2 separate regions of the Homo sapiens genome follow, and region 1 is linked to region 2. A link means that fine-mapping ties the variant in region 2 to the expression of a gene that starts in the linked region. Tissue or cell type: whole blood. Region 2 holds a variant in brackets; the other region holds the start of a gene. All regions are shown on one strand. Distances are between the middles of the regions.

Region 1 (8,109 bases), 600 kb before region 2:
GAAAAGATGTTCTTTAAAAAATAAAATTTGTAAGTGATCTACTCTAAAAAAAACAAAAACAACAACAAAAAATAACGCTATGGAGAAATAGTAAATGACATGGAAAAATTTACAGTATGTTTTTAAGGGAAAAAGGCCATGAAACATGAGAGAGAGAGAGAGAGAGAGATTTGAGAGAGAGAGTCATGAGTATGCACCATTGATAATTTTTCGTTCTTTTCTCTTGTCGCTTTTTTGTGTTTTCCAAGATTTCCAAAATTTTCCTTGTTGCTTTTTTGTGTTTTCCAAGATTTCTGCATTGAATGCTGCAAAGTAAAGCTCAGAAGGGTGCATTGTGAAGAATCTGAAAGCACAAACAGGGGCATAGAGCAAGGCTTCTTTCAGTCAACGAATTTTGAGGAAGGCAAAATGCACAGAGTATTGCAGAGGAACTCCAGGAAGATGCTGTTTTTCAAATTCAAAGGGGAGAAGATGGTGTCTATTGGTGGTGAGAACTTAAGTTCCACCACAGAAGACTAAACTCTGTTAAAGAATCAATGAGTAACAACTCCTGGGTTTCTGAACATAGGGCTGAATTGATAGAAGTGGTGTTGGAGAATTATTCTAACCATAACATGATAGATTCAGCTGTAAGCCAGGAGATTCTCTGTTTGCATATTTGACCTGAGGTAATGAGAACATGGATTAAGCTTGTGGCAATAAAACCAGAAAGGAAGGAGCAGAGGGATCTGAGACATGCTACCAAGAATCAGAGCTAGAGATTCAAATTTGGCTAAATATATGCCAAGTGGTAGGTGAAACCATGTAAGAGACACTCTTCAAGGAAATGGGTGTTGAGAGAGAATAGCTGAGGACTGAGTCTTTGGGGATTCCAACAGTTAATGGGAGGAGGAAAGAAGGGGAGCCAGCAAAGGAGGCAGAGAATGGTGGGTCAGAGAGATAAGAAGAGAAATTTGAGAATGCAATGCCACAAGAGCCAAGGGTAGGACAGTTACAGGAAGGAGTGGGTGGTTGATGGTTTCAAATTCATCCTCGAGGTCAAAGATGCAAAGGGAGCAGAGACCCCTGAATTTGACCCGGAGGTCACTGGTGAACTGACTTATAGAAAGTAGTTTTGGCAGAAAGCACTGGACTCTAGAAGGTTCAAGAGGAGGGAGAGGTGGGAAAATGGAGGTAGCTCATGAATACCACCCATTTGACACAAGTAATGTGTGAGGACTGAGAAGAAGAAGGTCAAACTTTATAATTCCAGTCCTGCTACTTAACCAGTCTGAACCTCAGTTTCCTCTTTGGAAAATGAGAATCCTATTAGCTCATAAGGCTGTTGAAATTAGAAAACAAGTTTAAATGATTATTTGTATGTTACAGTAAAGGGGTTTCTTCCTCCTTTCCTCTCAAAAAAAAAAAAAAAAACCCTAGCTATTTCTAGGTATATGTTAACACAGCAGTCCTCAACCTTTTTGGCACCAGAGACTGGTTTTGTGGAAGACAATTTTTTTCATGGACACTGGGGAGGGGTGGATAGTTTCAGGATGAAACTGTTTCACTTCAGATCATCAGGCATTAGATTCTCATAAAGAGCATGCAATTGTAGATCCATGGCATGCGCAGTTCACAATACGGTTTGAGCTCTTCTGAGACTCTAATGCCACTGCTGATCTGACAGGAGGTGTAGCTCAGGCGATAATGCTCACTTGCCCTCTGCTCACCTCTTTCTGTGCGGCTGGTTCCTAACAGGCCAAGGTCCAGCAGCCTGGGAGGTTGGGGACTCCTGTTTTAACAGATAAGAGAAGTCTTTTTAGCTCAACAGTCATATCACTAGGTTAGCAGTGCTTTGAAAATTCTCTGGCTGTGTCCTCTGGCATTCATCCTGCCAAGTTGCTTTAACAATTCTTTCCTGAGGCCCTCTGAGGTGAGAATATTGAGGCAAGGTGATTAGAAGGGAGCCAGTGTCAGGGTCATGTGGAATGTCTCTGAGGCCTGTTTAGAGGCTGTGAAGCAAGGCTCTGTTTGAGACCCTGGATACAGTTTGGTGCCAACCTCACCTGAACACACAGAAGGCTACAGCCCCTGGGTGGATGGTGGGCTGAAGAACGGTTGGGGAAGAGGCATCGGAAAACCTTCCTTTTTTAACCCATGGCACCTATAGATTGAATGGTCCCTGGACTGAACGGTCTTGAACAGGCAGCATTATTTTCAAGGTGTGCCTAAGGTCATACACTTTTCTTGCTTTCTGCTCTCATTTGGCAACTATGGACAACCAGACCTAGCCAGCACTACCTCATTTTTTCTACCCCACCATCTACAAACCAACCCTTTTCCTTTGTGAAGCTCAGTCTGTTTCCAATTTAACATATCTGGCCTGATCTTTGTCTTGGTGCCTTGTTTTCCCCTAAAAAAAGACAGCCTTTGAGAAAAAAATGGCTGCCCTAAAAGCCATTAGGGCCTAGACCTGTTACCAAGTCTAGAGAGGCACACAGCTGTTTGCTGGCCTAACTGGGAGTAGGGTGAGCATATTCTCTAGAACTGGCACTTTTCAGATCCCGAGATATCCACAGAGTGTAGTCAAAGGGCCTTTTAAAATGTGCATGCTACTCTTATTGGAAGAACTTGGTTTCACTTCTGGGAAGATGGCTTACTTACCCATGGGAAACAGGCTCCCATTATGAATAGTACATTCATGTGCTAAGATGTGTTGACTTTTCAAAAAGTGTCATAGGACATCAGAGCAGGGGTGCTTCCAAGAAGGTGTAATATCACTTATATCACCAGAAACCATTTTGGATAACCAGGGAGTTCTACTCTGCCTTGGCCTTCTAGCAGGTGCCTGAGCACTCAGTCACCAAATTCAGCCTGAGCATCTTCTGAATAAGATGCTCTCCTCCGACAAGGTGGGAGGGGGGTGAAAAGGGGGGCGGGGGGAAAAGGAAAGGAATGAGGACTAGAAAGATAGGCCTGGGTCCCTGTATATGGGAGTAACTTCCATAAAATGTGGACAAGGGGTCTCTGCTGCGGAAAGGCGTCTGCCCTCTCCCTTGAGCGCCCCAAGGCAGAGCTGCCTTAGGGGGCCAAATGCTGTATCTGGGCCAAAGCCTGGCCTGCAGGGCAGGTGGCCAGAACTTGGAAGGAATTCTCTTCCGCAGCCCAGGGTCCAGGCTTGGCCCCAGCAAGCTGCCCTGCCAGCGTCTGCTGCCTGGGGCCTCGCGCATTCCGAGCCCCCGCCCCCTCCGCCCGTCTCCCAGCCTCGCCCCCACTCTTGTCCCCTTCTCCTCCCCCCACCAGCTGTCCCCTTTCCCTGGAGCAGCGAGACAGCCAGAGCCTGGGAAGAGGCGGCCGCGGGCCGGAGGGGGCGTGGTGGGGAAGGGGAGGAGGGGCGGGAGTGAGGGAATAAGGAGGCCCCGCCGTCGGCGCCCCCAGCCACTGCGCGCTCGCCGGAGAGCTGGGTGCTACCGCTGTTTCCGCTGCTGAGCCCTGCCCGCCGGCCGGCCCGCTCGCTAGCTCGCTTCCCCTCGCCCAGGGGGAAAGGTCAGCAGCGTCCTGGAGCCGCCGTGTCACTCCCCGAAAGCCATGAACTGCAGCGAGAGCCAGCGGCTGCGAACCCTTCTGAGCCGCCTGTTGCTCGAGCTGCACCACCGGGGTAATGCCAGCGGCTTGGGCGCTGGCCCTCGTCCCAGCATGGGCATGGGGGTCGTGCCTGACCCTTTCGTGGGCCGCGAGGTGACCAGCGCCAAGGGCGACGACGCCTATCTCTACATCCTGCTCATCATGATCTTCTACGCCTGCTTGGCCGGAGGCCTCATCCTGGCCTACACCCGCTCCCGTAAGCTCGTCGAGGCCAAGGACGAGCCGTCCCAGGCTTGCGCCGAGCACGAATGGGCCCCGGGAGGCGCCCTGACCGCCGACGCCGAGGCTGCCGCGGGCTCCCAGGCCGAGGGCCGCCGCCAGCTTGCCTCCGAGGGGCTGCCTGCCCTCGCCCAGGGCGCTGAGCGGGTCTAAAACCACAGCCCCAGATTGCTGGTTCGCGCCCTCCTCATCTCGCTCATCCCTGGGCGCGCCTCCCACCTTCCACCCCCAACTCCCTTCCAGGGTTCGCCTCATCTGAGGCCCAGATAATGGTGAGAGGCCAGGAGACCTTGTCTGGAAGGCCCTGGAAGGAGAAGCACCACCTTACCCATTCGGGCCAGTTTCTCCCTCTTCACCCCTGCGCCTCCACCCCTACCCCGCACATCCAACTGCACTAAACTGCCTCTGCTCTCTTGTCTTCAGACAGCCCTGACAGCACGCTCCAGCCCTCTGGGAACTGAATCCAACACGTCCAACACTTGGCACTGAACTGAAGCAATGCATTCTATCAGAACTCTGGGCCGTCTAACTGGCAGCTGCTCCAGGGGCTGCCAGGGACTGCTCACTCTGCAGAGCCAACGGGCTTGCCAGGCCGACTGCAGCAGCTCCAGCTTCCAGTTGCCTTAGGGACAGAGACAAAGGAAATGAAGAGACCTCAGACATCTTTTCCCTCCCTCTCTCTTTCAGCAGGGAGCTAGCAGGACACTAGGACCAGTCTGTGGGATAGAATGAACTTAATGGGGGACGGAAGGGGGAGGAGTGCTCAACGGGGAGGGAAATGATCTATGACTCCAACCGTATGATTTTCTTGCCTCCCCAGTTTTCATCCCAGTGGTAACGCCTGATTTTTGGTAGCTATGCCATCTTCTGCTGAGGATTACCATTACTGGGTGTATCACCCCAGTACTTCCAAATGCCTCTCCTCTATTGATTCAGTTGTTATTGCAGTGTCTGCTTCATCCGTGGAACTTGAGGCTCAGATGCCCCCTGCTCTGTAACCCTGGGGAATGTCAGAGGCAGGTAATAAAGGTTGTTTAAACAATAACGCAAGACTCTTCTCTCAGAGATTCCAGCCTTAAGACCCAGTACCATATGGAGAAGGAATCCTTTTTCTTTTGCTTTTGGAAATGATGTTTGGATTTGGGGGTTGGGTGGTTGTGATATTTATATCTATGTAACCAGTTCCAATTTGATATGTGTGATTATGGGTGAAGAAAATGTTTATATGGCTAAATGGGTTGTTTTTTCAAGTGTTTCAAAAGTTATACCTACTTTATTACTTATCCCTCCTTTTTTCTTATTTCTGAAGCACTTTCAAAGATCACAATGCAGTCTTTCAGGATGCACTTTAAAAAACCTTTAAGGCCCATCCCTTTTAGCTATTATCAAACCTAATTTTTAGAAGCCACCTTAATAATTGTTTTTATTTTACTTTTTTTGAGACAGAGTCTCACTGTGTCACCCAGGCTGGAGTACAGTGGCACAATCAAGGCTTACTGAAGCCTCTGCCTCCTGGGTTCAAGCGATTCTCCTGCCTCAGCCTCCCAAGTAGCCTCCTGAGTAGCTGGGATTACAGATGTGCCCCATCATGCCCAGTTAATTTTTGTATTTTTAGTAGAGACGGGGGGTTTCACCATGTTGGCCAGGAGGTTCTCAAACTCCTGACCTCAAGTGATCCGCCTGTCTCGGCCTCCCAAAGTGCTGGGATTACAGGTGTGAGCCACTGCACCTAGCCAATAACTTTTTTGAAGTGGCTTATTAAAAGACAAGGAAGCCACCAAATAGTGTAAATCTGAAGTCAAAGAGAAAATTCTTGAACTGAGCAATCTTAACCAATGATGGGTAAAGTTAGAGGTGTGTGTTGTATTGATTTATTCTCCTTGTCTCAAGAAGGTTGTCAGAAACTTCCCTGCTTACAGCTGAAATGCTTATATCTGATGATGGCTGTTTGGGCTTCATCAACCACACATAAAATCACCTCTTAGAAGTAAGCCAATTTGCTTAAATATAGCTGGGTTCTCTGATAATGATAGCAGGACAAATATATTACCAGTCACTTAAATGCATTGATAACACACAAACCTCATTCAAGGCATTGGGTCTTACCTTCCAGCCCATCTAGCATTTTATTGGAACTGTTAATAAGTTAAGTGAACTTACTTTTATTTCCAGGATTCACTCATTGAAGCTATACTGGCCTTGCCCCATTGGCTCTTCTCCAGTCCTCGTTCCAGCCATAAGGTCACCCCTGAAGGTGAGGGCCAGGGATTGGGCAGCAGTCCAAGACGATGACAGAAAGAGAAGGGAAGCTGTGTGAGCCATTTCAGCCAGGCAGGGAGGCCTGGGGAGGATGTGGAGGAAGGGCACAATATACAGCAATGCTGAGGACATGTGACGGGGCGGTCTTCAGTCCTGTATTCTAAGTAAAACAATGTCACTCATTTATCTGGCATAATGGGGACTCAAGGTTATTATTATTAATTTTTTAAATTGAGACGGAGTCTTGCTCTGTCACCCAGGCTGGAGTGCAGTGTCGTGATCTTGGCTCACTGCAACCTCTGCCTCCCAGGTTCAAGCGATCCTCTTGCCTCAGCCTCCCGAGTAGCAGGGCTAAAGCCTGCGCCACCACGCTGGCTAATTTTTTTTTTTTTTTTTTTTTAGTAGAGACGGGGATTCATCATGTTGGCCAGGCTGGTCTCAAACTCCTGACCTCAAGTGATCTGCGCACCTTGGCCTCCCAAAATGTTGGGATTACAGGCGTGAGCCACCACGCCCGGCCTCAAGGTTATTTTGATAATGAAGCATAATCACTGCTTCAGGTGTTGAAATTTTGTAAACACATTTGTACCATTTTCCCATAGACATTTAAAAGAATATATTGCCAAAAATAAAAGAAGCTGGGAGCAGTTAGGACAGTGCTCATAATACACATTAATGTGCCAGCTGTGGAAAACAAATCCCATGGAAAATGTTCCTGCTTTTAAAAACATTTTAACCTTTTTATGATGACTTAGGGTACCCATGAAGAACATGTAGCGAGAGTAGCTATAGAACCCTCCTGGTCAGAAAAGTGAGGTGGGCTGGGAAGAGTGATTTAATTTACTTTCTAGTGGCTTTTTTCAAATACTCTCAGACTTTCAACTGTCTCCCAGATAATGAAGTTTTTCAGAAGTCTGGACACTCAACTTTTACCAGACAGTGGAGGTGTTAACAGCATTGAAGTGATCATATTGTGGTCAGCAAAACATAGGGAGAAGAAAGAAAAACTAGGTGCTTGGCCAACCCCCAGTTTTGATAATGTATCCCTGAATAGCAATAGCTGACTATACAAGTTGGGAAAATGTTAGCTTTGTCCTTAATGTGATTTTAAAGATGTTAAACATTCTAATAGAATGATTCTTTTTTTCACTCCACCAAGCAGTCTATTTCTCCTCTCTGCATAACCAGATCCTGTTTCAACTCAGGTTCAGATCTTCACTCCAAAATAATAAAGAAGCAAAAGACCTTTGCTTCCTGACTTGTAACTTGAGGCTTTCTGCAGAGGAACTAGGGGATGTTTTGAGTTTCAATGTCTGGAATTACTTATCGACAGTGCGAAAAGAAATGAAAGCTTTTCTTCTATTACAGACACAATTCTGTGTGTCAATTTTACTTTTCTAGAAGGATATAAGTGGGGTCTTTTGTTTGTTTGTAGTTACCATCTTCTCTTTTTCAATTTGTCATTGCTTTTATAAACCCAAGGTCTGCACATAACTTGTATCATCAGCAACAAAAAAAGGGGTCTGGGCTGCTTTCCAAACAATCTTGCCTGCCAGCTAAAGCGAATATACCATGATGTGGAGAGAGCATAGGACCAGAAATCAGGAGAACTTGGGTCCAGCTCAGGCTTTGCCAATTAACCAGCTTTGTTTCTCAGAATGAGCTGCTTAACCTCTCAGGGCCCCAGTCTCTACAGCTGTGGGGATTTGAGGATCAAGTGAGATAATATATGAGAAAAGGCTAGGAGAAGTGTAGAAACTATAGAAGGTATTAAGTTTATACTTTCCTTTTCTTTCTTTGGAGGAGTGCTCTTGGCACTTGGGTGGGAGTAGTGGGAGGAAGAGAAAATTTTCCACTATGTAGTTTCTACTGTTAATGCTCAAAAAAGAGGATTGCTGATACTTAGCCACTGGCTCCCAGATTTTCAAGCTTATCTACCCCATTCTCAGGATCTTGGCTGACTAGGAAACTGCATAACTGTCTCACCATTCTACTCTGCTCTCGTTT
Region 2 (8,109 bases):
TCTTGTGGTGATTTTGGTTTACATTTCCTTAATGATTAAAGATATTGAGCACCTTTTCATGTGCTTGTTGGCCATTTGCGTATCTTCTTTGGAGAAACATCTATTCAAACCCTTTGCCTATTTTTTAATTGGGTCATTTATCTTTTTGCTATTGAGTTATGAGAGTTCTTTTCATATTCTAAATATTATACTTTTATCAGATATATGATTTACAAATACTTTATCTAATTTTGCATGTTGTTTTCACTTTCCTGATAGTGTCCTTTGATTCACAAATATTTTTAATTTAAATAAAGTCCAATTTGTCTATTTTTTATTTTGCTTATACTTTAAAAATGTATGGGTACAAAGTAGCTGTATATAATTATGGAGTACATGAGATATTTTGATACAAGCATTCAATATGTAATCATCACATTGTGGTAAATGGGGTATCAATCACTGCAAGAATTTATCCTTTCTTTGTGTTACAAACATTCTAATTGTACTCTTTTAGTTATTTTAAAATGTACAACAAATTGTTAATTATAGTCATCTGTTGTGCTATCAAATATTAGATTTTATTAATTCCCTCTAAGTATATTTTTGTACCCATTAACAGTCCCCACTTGCCTCCCTACTATCCTTCTTAGCCTTTGGTAACCATCATTCTACTCTCTATCTCCATGAGTTCAATTGTTTTAATTTTTAGCTTTCCAAAATGGGTGAGAACATGCTAAGTTTGTCTTTCTGTGCCTCACTTATTTCTGTCAACATAATTTCCTTTAGTTCTGTGCATCCTATTACAAATGGCAGGATCTCATTCTTTTTTATGGCTTAATAGTACTCCATTGTATATATGTACCATATTTTCTTTATTCTTTTGTCTGTTGATGGATACTTAGGCTGATTCCAAATCTTGGCTATTGTGAATAGTGCTGGAATAAACACGGGGATACACATGTCTTTGATACATTGATTTTCTTTCTTTTGGGTATATACCTAACAGTGGTATTGCTGAATCATATGATCATTCTAATTTTAGTTTTTTGAAAAACCTTCATACTGTTCTCCCCAGTGGTTGTACTGATTTATGTACCCACAATAGTATATGAGGTTTTCCCTTTCTCCACATCTTTGCCAGCATTTGTTATTGCCTGTCTTTTGGAAATAAGCCATTTTAACTGGGGTGAGATGATATCTCATTGTAGTTTTGATTTGCATTTGTCTGATGATCAATGATGTTGAGCAACTTTTTGTATACCTGTTTGCCATTTGGACATCTTCTTTTGAAAAATATTTGCCTATTTTTAAATTGTATTATTAGATTTTTTTCTCCCATTTGGGAGAAAATGATCATAAACTATTGATTTGACAAGGGATTAATAATCAGAATATATAAGGAGCTAAAACTTATATATTCAAATTGTCTCTTCATTTTGTTGATTTTTTTCTTTTGTTGTGCAGAAGCTTTTTAATGTGATGTGATGCCATTTGTACATTTTTTTTCTTTTGTTGCCTATGCTTGTAGGGCATTACTCAATAAATCTTTGCCCAGACTAATGTCCTGGACAGTTCCCCCAAGGATTTCTTCTCGTAGTTTCATGTCTTAGATTTAAGTCTTAATCAATTTTGACTTTGTTTTTCTATATGATGAGAGATAAGAATCAAGCTTCATTCTTCTTCATAGGAATATCCAGTGTTCACAGCACCATTTGTTGAAGAAACTGTCTTTTCCTCAATGTATGTTCTTGGCACCTTTGTAAAAAATGAGTTCACTACAGATGTATGGATTTATTTCTGGATTCTCTATTTGTTGTTTGTACTTTCGATGTTATATCTACAAAACCATTGCCAATCATTTAAAGATTTACCCCTATGTTTTTTCCTAAGAATTGTATATTTTTTGCTCTTCCATTTAGATCTTTAGTATATTCTCAGTTCTTTTCTATATGTTATGAGATAAAGGTACAACTTTTTTCTTTTGCATGTGGGTATCCAGTTGTCCCAGAGAGTATATTTCTTTTAACTCCTCCAAATAGAGAATAATAATAATTATTATGATAAACGGTCAAGAGCAAGAACAAGCTACTCACAGAAGAAGTACGATTCTCCATACATGTACAAAAAGATGTTTAATGTCACTAATAATCAGGAAGATTCAAATAAGAATGATAATTAATAATCATTTTAAAATGTGATATAATTCACATACCATATAATTCACCCACTTAAAATGTACAATATGATGGCTGTTAGTATATTCTCAGAGTTGTGTAACTATTGTTAAAATCAATTTTAGAATATTTTTTCACCCCAAAAAGAAACACTGCATGATTTATTCATAAGCTCTATAATTTCCAGTACACACCCCCAGCTCTAGACAAACTAATCCACTTTCTGTCTCTGGTGATTTGCTTATTCTACATTTTACATAAATGTTTATTTTTCAGCATATTCTGCAATGGTAAACAAATGGAAGCAACATAAATGTCCATCAGTGGAAGGATGTATAAACAAATATAATCTTATCATATGATGGAATATGTATAAGGCCTTAATTATGCATTTCATTAAATGTACCTTGCTTTTAGCTGCCTGCTGGGCATTTAACTGTTTGCTCACTGGAGAACCTGTTTGCATGACACAATCTCCATTGCACCTGCTGAGCCAGGAACTGCAGTGGCTTCAATTCCCAGGCCTCATCCAGCTGGATCTATGGAGTCTCTGGCTTCTGCCACCAGTTTCAGATTCAGATAAATTGTAACACAATGAGGTATGGGACCTGGCATCCCCAGTAGCTGCTGGATAGTCCAGATGACAAAACTTGGAAACCTTTGTACAGGAAACAAAGGGATTAATACCACCAAGGACAAACATATATCAATAAAAAATAAGATGTTGAAAAAGGCTAGCAAACAATCTTTTCTTCTTTCCTACTCTCTTCTTCTCTCTTTTGCTTTCCTTTTATTTCTTGCTCTTGCTGCCTTGGGATATCACTTCCTAATAAAGCCTTAGCACAAAACCTTTACTCATAAGAAACCTTATTTTGAAATGAAAGTCAAGATGGCCAAATAGGAACAGCTCTGGTCTGCAGCTCCCACCGAGACTGATGCAGAAGATGGGTGATTTCTGCATTTCCATCTGAGGTACCTGGTTCATCTCATTGGGACTGGTTGGACAGTGGGTGCAGCCCATGGAGGTTGAGCCGAAGCAGGGTAAGGCATCGCCTCACCTGGGAAATGCAAGGGGTCAGGGGATTACCCTTTCCTAGCCAAGGGAAGCTGTGACGGACTGTACCTAGAGAATCAGTACACTCCTGACCAAATACTGCACTTTTCCCACAGTCTTAGCAACTGGCAGACCAGAACGTACCCTCCCGTGCCTGGCTCAGTGGGTCCCATGCCCACAAAGCCTTGCTCACTGCTAGCGCAGCAGTCTGAGATTGACCTGCAACTCTGCAGCTTGACTGGGGGAGGAACACCCACCATTGCTGAGGCTTGAGTAGCTCACAGTGTCAACAAAGAGGCCAGGAAGCATGAATTGGA[T/A]GGAGCCCATTGCAGCTCAGCAAGGCCTACTGCCTCTATAGATTCCATCTCTAGGGTCAGGGCATAGTAGAACAAAAGGTAGCAAATAGCTTCTGCAGACTTAAATGTCCCTGTCTCACAGCTTTGAGGAGAGCACTGGTTCTCTTAGTGTGGCATATGAGCTCCGAGAATGGACAGACTGCCTGCTCAAGAGGGTCCCTGACCTCCATGTGGCCTGACTGGGAAACACCTCCAGTAGGGGCTGACAGACATCTCAAACAGGCAGGTGCCCCTCTGGGATTAAGCTGACAGAGGAAGGATCAGGCAGCAATATTTGCTGTTCTGCAACCTCCACAAGTGATAGCCCGGCAAACAGGGTCTGGAGTGGACCTCCAGCAAACTCCAACAGACCTGCAGCTGAAAGGTCTGACTCTTAGAAGGAAAAGTAACAAACAGAAAGGAATAGCATCAACATCAACAAAAAGGACATCCACACCAAAACCCCATCTGTAGGCCATCAACATCAAAGACCAAAGGTAGATAAAACTACAAAGATGGGGAGAAACAAGAGCAGAAAAGCTGGAAATTCCAAAAAACAGAGCACCTCTTCTCCTCCAAAGGATTGCAGCTCCTCACCAGTAAGGGAACAAAACTGGACAGAGAACGAGTTTGATGAGTTGACAGAAGTAGGCTTCAGAAGGTCGGTAATAACAAACTTCTCCAAGCTAAAGGAGCATGTTCTAACCCATTGCAAGCAAGCTAAAAACCTTGAAAAAAGGTTAGATGAATGGCTAACTAGAATAAACAGTGTAGAGAAGACCTTAAATGACCTGATGGAGCTGAAAACCACGGCATGAGAACTTCATGATGCATGCACAAGCTTCAATAGCTGATTCGATCAAGTGGAAGAAAGGATATCGGTGATTGAAAATAAAATTAATGAAATAAAGTGAGAAGACAGGAGTAGAGAAAAAAGAGTGAAAAGTAATGAACAAAGCCTCCAAAAGATATGGGACTATGGGAAAAGACCAAATATCCATTTGATTTGTGTATCTGAAAGTGATGGGGAGAATGGAACCAAGTTAGAAAACACTTCTCAGGATATTATCCAGGAGAACTTCCCTAACCTAGCAAGGGAGGCCAACATTCAAATTCAGGAAATACAGAGAACACCACAAAGATACTCCTCAAGAAGAGCAACCTCAAGACACATAATTGTCAGATTCAACAAGGTTGAAATGAAGGAAAAATGTTAAGGGCACCCAGAGAGAAAGGTTGGGTTACCCACAAAGGGAAGCCCATCAGACTAACAGCGGATCTCTTGGCAGAAACCCTACAAGCCAGAAGAGAGTGGAGGCTGATATTCAACATTTTTCAAGAGAAGAATTTTCATCCCAGAATCTCATATCCAGCCAAACAAAGCTTTATAAGTGAAGGAGAAATAAAATCCTTTACAGACAAGCAAATGCTGAGAGATTTTGCCACCACCAGGCCTGCATTACCGGAGCTCCTGACGGAAGCACTAAACATGGAAAGGAACAAACAACTGGTACCAGCCACTGCAAAAACATGCCAAGTGGTAACGACCATCGATGCTATGAAGAAACTGCATCAACTAATGCGCAAAATAACCAGCTAAAATCAAAATGACAGGATCAAATTCAAACACAACAATATTAACCTTAAATGGAAATGGACTAAATGCCCCCAATTAAAAGACACAGACTGGCAAATAAGATAAAGAGTCAAGACCCACAGGTGTTCTGTATTCAGGAGACCCATCTCACATGCAAAGACATACATAGGCTCAAAATAAAGAGATGGCAGAATATTTACCAAGGAAATGGAAAGCAAAAAAAAGAGGGAGGGGGTGTTGCAATCCTAGTCTCTGATAAAACAGACTTTAAACCAGCAAAGATCAAAAGAGACAAAGAAGGCCTCTACATAATGGTAAAGGGATCAATTCAACAAGAAGAGCTAACTATCCTAAATATATACGCACCTAATTCAGGAGAACCCAGATTCATAAAACAAGTTCTTAGAGACCGACAAAGATACTTAGACTCCCACACAATAATAATGGGAGACTTTAACACCACAACGTCAATATTAGACAGATCAATGAGACCGAAAATTAACAACAATATCCAGGACTTGAACTCAGCTGTGGACCAAGCAGAACTAATAGACATCTACAGAACTCTCCACCCCAAATCAACAGAATATAAATTCTTCTCAGCACCACATCGAACTTATTCTAAAATTGACCACATGATTAGTAGTAAAACACTCCTCAGCAAATGTAAAAGAACAGAAATCACAACAAACTCTCTCTCAGACCACAGTGCAATCAAATTAGAACTCGGGATGAGGAAACTCACTCAAAACTGCACAAGTACATGAAAACTGAACAACGTGCTCCTGAATGACTACTGGGTAAATAACGAAATAAAGGCAGAAATAAAGACGTTCCTTGAAACCAATGAGAAGAAAGACAGAAAGTACCAGAATCTCTGGGACACATTTAAAGCAATGTGTAGAGGGAAATGTATAGCACTAAATGCCCACAAGAGAAAGCAGAAAATATCTAAAATCGACACCCTAACATCACAATTAAAAGAACTAGAGAAGCAAGAGCAAACAAATTCAAAAACTAGCAGAAGGCAAGAAATAACTAAGATCAGAGCAGAACTCAAGGAGATAGAGACACGAAAAAACTTTCAAAATGATCAGTGAATCCAGGACCTGGTTTTTTGAGAAGATCAACGAAATAGACCACTAGCAAGACTAATAAAGAAGAAAAGAGAGAAGAATCAAATAAACACAATAAAAAATGATAAAGGGGATATCACCACCGATCCCACAGAAATACAAACTACCATCAGAGAATACTATAAACACCTCTATGCAAATAAACTAGAAAATCTAGAAGAAATGGATAAATTCCTGGACACATACACCCTCCCAAGACTAAACCAGGAAGAAGTTGAATCTCAGAATAGACCAATAACACGATCTGAAGTTAAGGCAAAAATTGATAGCCTACCAACAAAAAAAGTCCAGGACCAGAGGAATTCACAGCCAAATTCTACCAGAGGTACAAAGAGGAGCTGGTACCATTCCTTCTGAAACTATTTCAATAAATAGAAAAAGAGAGACTCCTCCCTAATTCATTTTATGAGGCTAGCATCATCCTGATACCAGAGCCTGGTAGAGACACAACAAAAAGAGAATTTTAGGCCAATATCCGTGATGAACATCGATGCGAAAGTCCTCGATAAAATACTGGCAAATCGAATCCAGCAGCACATCAAAAAGCTTATCCACCATGATCAAGTCAGTTTCATCCCTGGGATGCAAGACTGGTTCAACCTATGCAAACCAATAAACATAATCCATCATATAAACAGAACCAAAGATAAAAACCACATGATTATATCAATAGATGCAGAAAAGGCCTTCAAAAAAATTCAACAGCACTTCATGCTAAAAATTCTCAATAAACTAGGTGTTCATGGAGCATATATCAAAATAATAAGAGCTATTTATGACAAACCCACAGCCAATATCATACTGAATGGGCAAAACCTGGAAGCATTCCCTTTGAAAACCAGCACAAGACAAGGATGCCCTCTCTCACCACTCCTATTCAACATAGTGTTGGAAGTTCTGGCCAGGGCAATCAGGCAAGAGGAAGAAATAACGGGTATTCAATTAGGAAAAGAGTAAGTCAAGTTGTTTCTGTTTTCAGTTGAAATGATTGTATATTTAGAAAACCCCATCATCTCAGCCCAAAGTCTCCTTAAGCTGATAAGCAACTTCAGCAAACTCTCAGCATACAAAATCAATGTGCAAAAATCACAAGCATTCCTATACACCAATAAGGGACAGAGAGCCAAATCATGAGTGAACTCCCATTCACAATTGCTTCAAAGAGAATAAAATACCTAGGAATCCAACTTAAAAGGGATGTCAAGGACCTCTTCAAGGAGAACTACAAACCACTGCTCAATGAAATAAAACAGGACACAAACAAATGGAAGAACATTCCATGCTCATGGATAGGAAGACTCAATATCACAAAAATGCCCATACTGCCCAAGGTAATTTATACATTCAATGTTATCCCCATCAAGCTGCCACTGACCTTTTTCACAGAATTGGAAAAAACTCCTTTAAAGTTCCCTTGGAACCAAAAAAGAGCCCACATAGCCAAGACAATCCTAGGCAAAAAGAACAAAGCTGTATGCATCAAGCTACCTGACCTCAAACTATACTATAAGGCTACAGTAACCAAAACAGCATGGTACTGGTACCAAAACAGAGATTGACCAATGGAACAGAACAGAGGCCTCAGAAATAACACCACACATCTACAACCATCTGATCTTTGACAAACCTGACAAAAACAAGTAATGGGGAAAGGATTTCCTATTTAATAAATGGTGCTGGGAAAACTGGCTAGCCATATGTAGAAAGCTGAAACTGGATCCCTTCCTTACACCTTATACAAAAATTAACTCAAGATGGATTAAAGACTTAAATATAAGACCTAACACCATAAAAACCCTAGAAGAAAACCTAGGCAATACCATTCAGGACC

The links. PIP is the estimated chance that this variant, and not a neighbour inherited with it, causes the effect.
Region 1: it holds the start of KCNE5, and the variant in region 2 is fine-mapped to the expression of KCNE5 in whole blood (TOPMed, PIP 0.97).

The regions. Positions count from the first base shown.
Region 1 is chrX:109,620,479-109,628,587 of GRCh38, reverse strand. It overlaps KCNE5 (potassium voltage-gated channel subfamily E regulatory subunit 5), which reads left to right and starts at 3,416. Exons shown (of 1, transcript NM_012282.4): 1 at 3,416-4,888. The coding sequence starts at 3,568. The coding sequence ends at 3,996.
Region 2 is chrX:109,020,402-109,028,510 of GRCh38, reverse strand. No RefSeq gene overlaps it. Among named protein-coding and RNA genes, the nearest start is that of IRS4, 290 kb to the right of the region's middle. RefSeq lists an enhancer at 2,360-2,927. The variant T/A (reference allele first, on the strand shown) is at 3,528.